2 separate regions of the Homo sapiens genome follow, and region 1 is reported to be linked to region 2. The links are microRNA targets in miRTarBase. Many come from high-throughput screens and were not tested one by one. Region 2 holds a microRNA gene; the other region holds the end of a gene's coding sequence.

Evidence for each region. Region 2 holds the annotated microRNA hsa-miR-181c-3p (AACCAUCGACCGUUGAGUGGAC, at 1,720-1,741, shown strand). A microRNA usually pairs through its seed, bases 2 to 8, with sites in the 3' UTR of a target mRNA and lowers its output. Matches are read on the target gene's strand: a 7mer-m8 pairs with bases 2 to 8, a 7mer-A1 pairs with bases 2 to 7 and ends in A, and an 8mer does both.
Region 1: miRTarBase lists TET3 as a target of hsa-miR-181c-3p. The part of its 3' UTR that is shown has no 7-base or 8-base seed match.

What each region holds. Positions count from the first base shown.
Region 1 is chr2:74,101,692-74,104,691 of GRCh38, reverse strand. TET3 (tet methylcytosine dioxygenase 3) reads right to left here. Exons shown (of 12, transcript NM_001287491.2): 12 at 1-3,000. The coding sequence ends at 2,516. Among named protein-coding and RNA genes, the nearest start is that of BOLA3, 45 kb to the left of the region's middle.
Region 2 is chr19:13,873,044-13,876,559 of GRCh38, forward strand. MIR181C (microRNA 181c) reads left to right here and starts at 1,656; the gene lies at 1,656-1,765. It overlaps MIR181D (microRNA 181d), which reads left to right and starts at 1,832; the gene lies at 1,832-1,968. It also overlaps a transcript of NANOS3 not described here.

The sequences.
Region 1 (3,000 bases), not on the chromosome of region 2:
ATCAGGAAGATTCACACATGCCAAGTATCAGAATCACCTGGGTTACACTCGGGACCTTCCAAACCAACAGCCAACCTGGGGCTTCCACGGGTCATACAGACGGTCACATTCTCCAAATGTTTCGTAAAATATTGTATTTCTTGCTTAAGATCATTTAAAATGAAGTTTTCAAGGCACCCCCGCATCTACCTAAGCACGGAGTCAAATGAGACCTGCATAAAAGTACTGATGCGATAAGCAAAATAGCATTTAAAGGACCCAATTTTTCCTCAAAACTAGAAAATTAGCATGCTCATTAAAGACTCTGCTTCCTTTAGCTTGTCAAACTGAAGGTCAGAGGTTTTCCTATAAATCTGAGTTCTGAATAATTCTAAGTCCTGATAAGCTCTTGGGTATTTATTTCAAAAGCAATAATATTTCATTTTTTTGTCCTGTAAAATAAATGCAACTTTACAGAATATGGTAAAAGTGGAGGATAGACAAAGCACATTAAATATTCGGCTACTATTTACAATTTCTCCCACAATTACATGTTAAAACATACTTTTTTTTTCAAGTTGCTGTTTAAATCTAGGCAAAAGTGCTTAAAAAAATCTTTCACTATTTACAGTTAAAACCAGACCACATAAATGCTCAGGACATCTTACAACGACCCTCCGCCAGTGCTTCCAAACAGATACAGTAAACACCCAGCAGGCCGGTTCTCAGCTCTTACTCAAGGCACCCGGAAGCTCAGGAACTTGCCTATAGCGGTCATCTGATTGTTAAACATGATTCATGAAGACCCATATCTGAATACAACTGCTCAGTAAATACCTGTTCATCTCAGGGCTTGGTGGTCATCCACCGTGTGGCCACATTCCCCTCTGTGTGTCCTGATGAAGCCCCCCATTCACCACACACACATCCACATGGCTAGCATGAGATCATTTCTGCTAATATCACAAGAAAAACCAACACTCCAACAAAGTTTGACTTGGTGATGATGAGTGTTGCTCCCATCAGGCCCAACCTCTCTCGACAACGTCACAAAAATTAAGCACCACATTCTCATTTCAAAGAACCGAATGAATGCACCAGAATTTCAGAACAGCTATATTAAAGTGGATGAAGAGGGGAGAAAGGAAAAAAAGAAAATGATCAAATGGAGAAATGGCACCAATTAGGGAGGAAAATTATAGCAACCTGTTGAAAATGTTTGACTCTTGCACTTTAAAATTGTTAAGTGTAGGCCCCCGAACCCAATGACAGCATGGAGGAAGCAGGCTCAGGTGTGAGGCATGCACCATTGTCCAATGTGGAAATTCAGGGATCAGGATAGATGCATTAACTGTTGTTACACTGGTCTGCTGAGCTCCTGTAGGATGTGACCTGCCCAAGAGTCAAGAAAGTCCCAGCACAACACTACAGCACCAGGCTCCGCACAGCACCATGCACAGAGCACCACTGGCTTTTCACAGCTTGGGTTCAACTTCCTGTTTTTAAAGATACAGTAGCCCTTTTTCAGTATCAGCATAGACTTTGGGGGCATTTTTTAAAAAACTGCCACTAAGACAAATTCCTTCAGCTCAGCATGCATTGGCTTGGCAACATGGTGGGCACGGCCCCTAAGAACCTCGCACTCCAGCTCCAGCGTGAGGTGCTGCCTAGTGAACCATGACATCGTGTGACTCCATAAATAACGGACAGAGGATTCAGTGTGGAGACTAGCAAGCTTGAAGCCATCTACTTCCAACCTGGTTTCTGGGGAAAGCTATGCCAGCATCTCGTGGGGCTGGCCTGGGGTGCATCTGCCCTTCGACTCCAAGCCGGGGACTGGAAAAGGGACCCCAGATGGTTTTCTGCAGACTCTCCCATCCTATCAGAGAGGACAGAAGCTGTCCTGAGGCTCCCTTCCCCAAAGGGAAGGGGTGTATGTCGGGAGGGATGAACTGGGTGGCTACCGTCCGCGCTTGGCTCTCGAGGGGCAGATGGCTGAGGACCTCGCCAGCGCCCGAGGGGCTTGGCTCGCCAGACCCAGCGAGACTGGGCGGGGGAGCACTACTGGCCTTTCCTGCCCATCCTTTACCATTACTATTGTCGCTTTTAAAAAATCCAATAAATACACATTTTAAATGGAATTTAAAACTACTCCTTTGTGAAAGGATACTATAAACTTTCTTTCCATTATTGTGATATACAAGGATAGAGTTTTAAAAACAAAGAGAAAATAAAAATAAAAACCCCCCAGACAAGGGGGGGGGACAACTTGGAGATATAAATATTAAGATCACGGAAAAATCACCCGACAGCCGTAGTTTCTTCTTCAAAGTGCTGGGGAAGTGGGGGTAAGGGAGGGGCGGGTCAGTTCTGAGGTTTGGACCATAAATACATATATATGATATGCGCATCTATATATGTATATAGAGATAAAAAGACTTCTGCACCCCCAACCCGCCCCCAGGTATGAGGGCAAAAGCACCACAGAGACAGCTCGGGCCAGGCCCGACGCTGAGGTACGCTGGCTCCCTGGCACCTAGATCCAGCGGCTGTAGGGGCCAGTGACCTTCGTGTAGGCATAGGAGGACACGGTGACCGCCGAGTCTGTGGGCACAGCCAGTGCCTGCCGGGTGGGGACGACCCCCTTCTTCTCTTTCTGCTGGGGCTCAGCAACCACAGTGCCCCCCCACTTGCGCTTCTTCCCGTAGAGCTTGGCCTCCTGCTGGCCCAGGCCCAGCCGGGCAGCCTCCTCCTGCCGTGCCCGTGCCCTCTCCGCCAGCTGCTTCATCTTGGCTTCCCAGAGGGCCAGCCCGTGGTTGGGCTGGTTGAGGTTCTTGTGCTGGTAGAAGACCAGCGAGATGCGGGTGGGGTGGCAGCGGTTGGGCTTCTTAAGCGGCGTGGTGGCGTGCAGCTCCCGCCGGGCACACTCGATGAGGATGGAGCCGTGGGCTGGGGCCACGGCCACGCCGCCGATGTTCTCGTCCAGGAAGTTGTGTTCACTGTCCGACCACAGCTCCTCCT
Region 2 (3,516 bases):
CCGGGGCGTCTATAGAGCAGGCTTTTGTGGAGGGCTCTAAGGGGGCGGGCCCTAAGGGAGCTGGGCTCTTTGAGGACTGGCTTAGGGGTTTGGCGGTGGGCTCCGTGGGAGTCTATATGGGCGGGTTTTAGAGGGAGTGTGTTCTGGGGAACAGGTCAAAAGCGACGGGGCTCTAAGGGGCAGGGCCTGGGCTGGGGCCTTGGCTGGTGGCTCCAGACTGTGGGTGGGGCTCTCGGGGGCGGGGCTCTCGGGGGCGCGTCCTCGGGGGCTCGGCCGGGTTCCGTTGCCACCACCGTGAGGGGTGTGGTGGGGGGGTGGTTCACGCAGCTCGGCACACTTGGGGGTCCCTCATCTACCTTGGGGTTATGCCAGGCGGTTATTTTGGGCCTCAGTATTCCCCTCGGTGAAATGCCAGGGGCCAGGAAATTACTTATTTTTTTGCGACGACGGGGTCTCGTCCTGTGACCCAGGCTGGAATACAGTGGCGCGATCACGGCTCACTGCAGCCTCGAGCCTCGAACTCTTGGGGTCCAAGCGATCCTCCCATCTCAGCCTCCTAAGTAGCTAAGACTACAGGCTCACTACACCACACCCAGCTAATTTTTTTGTAGGGACAGGTATCTCGCTATGTTGCTCAGGTTGGTCTCCATCTCCTGGGCTCAAAAGATCCTCCCGCCTCAGCCTCCCAAAATACTGAATTACAGGCCTGAGCCGCAGCACCCGGCCATGCCGGGTGCACCTTCCTAGGCCGTCCGCAGACCCAGGTCAGGGGCGAAGGCGCGCTCGCCCATCCCTGGTCGTCACTGCTTGGCTTGCGGGGGGTGGGAGATAGGGGTGCGTACCTGTAGGCCTGGGGGCACCCGGGGCGGGGGGGTGGTCGCCGAACTCTGTGCGATCACTGGAGGAAGGGACTGGGGGTCATTTGAGGGATGAGGAAATGGAGAGGGGGCGCCGCAGCCGGTTTTGAGGCCCAAGGGGCAGCCCCCACGTGGCTGCGCGGACTCCCTCCGGAAGTGCCCGAGTTCAGATGCTGTGTGACCGCGCACGCGGGGCGAGCGGCGCCCTCTCTGAACCTCCTGCCTCTCCCCTGTCTAGTGGGGCCCCAGTGCACTTGTAAAGTGGAGAGACCTGACGACCCCCCACCCCCAAGCGCTCCACTCACGCTGTTGTGATTCCTAAACCATCGTGCCCGGAACTCAGTGAAGCTCCCAGAACGTATTACATTGTATTAAAATGGCTTGTTTATCTCCACGTTGCATCAATGCCCTCGGGGCCAGGATCCTCCGTTGCCAGACTTCCCGGGAACACTTGGAATGCCTCCTCCACCTCGGACTAGCAGTGGCCTTTGGCCTCAGTCTCCCCAGTTGACAAAGGGGGGTAATCTGCACCTCCAGGATCACTTTGTGAATTACTTAAGGAGCGGGCTTGAGGCCAGCACTCCCCTGCACTGCTACATCTCCATCCCCATAGCAAAGGCTACATTTTATTTACTAGCATTTATATTTGCCTTGTGTTTTTCCCAGATCTAGGTGCAAACAGCACCTGAAAAGCGTTTGTTTATTTCATGAGAGAAAAGGGGTTCCTTACTCTCTCCTCCTCTCCCTCTTCATGCTCTCTGGTTCCCTGCCACCTACCCCACCCCCGACTCCAGGTCCCGGAAAATTTGCCAAGGGTTTGGGGGAACATTCAACCTGTCGGTGAGTTTGGGCAGCTCAGGCAAACCATCGACCGTTGAGTGGACCCTGAGGCCTGGAATTGCCATCCTCCTGCCGGTGACTCTGACCTTCCAGATCTAGGGGGGCCTGGGGAGCCCCCAATCCAGCCTGGGCACGTCCCCTCCCCTAGGCCACAGCCGAGGTCACAATCAACATTCATTGTTGTCGGTGGGTTGTGAGGACTGAGGCCAGACCCACCGGGGGATGAATGTCACTGTGGCTGGGCCAGACACGGCTTAAGGGGAATGGGGACTGGGGACAGGACCCCCCACCGCCACAGTCACTCAGCCTGTTTTTTGCCCTGACCCCAACCACTCCTCTTTGGAGAGGAGAGCTGGTGTCTGGAATCTGGATGGGCTCTGGCTGGATTTGGGACTAAATATTAGAGGGTTGGGGGTAAACAGGCTGGGGCAGGGCAGCTAAAATCCCCTTTTTTTTTTTTTTTTAAGACAGAGTCTCACTCTGTTGCCTAGGCTGGAGTGCAGTGGCCCAATCTCAGCTCACTGCAACCTCTGCCTCCAGGGTTTGAGTGATTCTCTGGCCTCAGCCTCCCAAGTAGCTGGGATTACAGGCATCTGCCACCACAGTGGGCTAATTTTTGTATTTTTAGTAGAGACGAGATTTCACTGTGTTGGCCAGGCTGGTCTCAAACTCCTGACCTCAAGTAATCCTCCCCCCTCGGCCTCCCAAAGTGCTGGGATTACAGGCATGAGCCACTTTGCCTGGCCTAAAACCCCTTTCTGAAATGTGGGTGGTAAGTTCTGCTCCGTGGAGTGCTCCATAGTTTTGTTTTTTAAATTAGAGACAGGATCTCGCTCTTGTCACCCAGGCTGGAGTGCAATGGTGTGACCTTAGCTCACTGCAGCCTCTAATAACTGGAGTCAAGCGTTGATCCTCCCGCCTCAGCCTCCCCAGTAGCCGGAACCACGGGCACGCACCACCACACCTAGCTTATTTCGAAAAAGTGTTTTTGTAGGAACAGGGTCTCAAAACGTTGCCCAGGCTGGTCTCCAACTCCTAGGTTCAAGCAATCCTCCTCGGCCTCTCAAAATGAGCCACAGTGCCTGGCCAATAAAAGTTTCTTAAATGAATGGATGGGTGGATGAGCTGTGTAAGCGGCACAGCGTCTCTCCTCTGTGTCCAAGTCCTGAGCACACCCTCCCCTCCTGGGACTGAGCTGAGATCTCATCTCGGGGAGGACACTGAAGACCTGTAGGTACTAGGGGTCCCCTCCTAACAGCCCAACTTGCTATCCCCCACCTCCCAACTCCAGAGGGTTCTTTCTCACCCCTCTGCAGCCCCCGCCAGGAAAGGGCTCCCTCCCCAGCACCTAGCCTCAGGGGGCCCCAGTAACTAGAAGAAGGAGGCAGATGTGGTGCTTTTTGTTGTTGTTGTTTTGAGACAGAGTCTTACTCTGTTTCCCAGGCTGGAGTGCAGTGGCTTGATCTTGGCTCACCGCAACCTCTGCCTCCTGGGTTCAAGCAATTCTTCTGCCTCAGCCTCCTGAGTAGCTGGGATCACAGGCACCCGCCACCATGCCCAGCTAATTTTGTGTGTGTGTGTGTGTGTGTGTGTATTTTTAGTAGAGACAGGGTTTCACCATGTTAGCCAGGCTGGTCTCGAACTCTTGACCTCAGGTGATCCGCCTGTCTTGGCCTCCCAAACTGTTGGGATGACAGGCATGAGCCACCACTCCCTGGCCTGGTGCATGTCTTTATAAATAACTGGATGGGCAGGTGGCTTCACACCTCAGTTTGCTCATCCATTCAATGGGGGTTCCACTAAGACAACCGATGTGAAA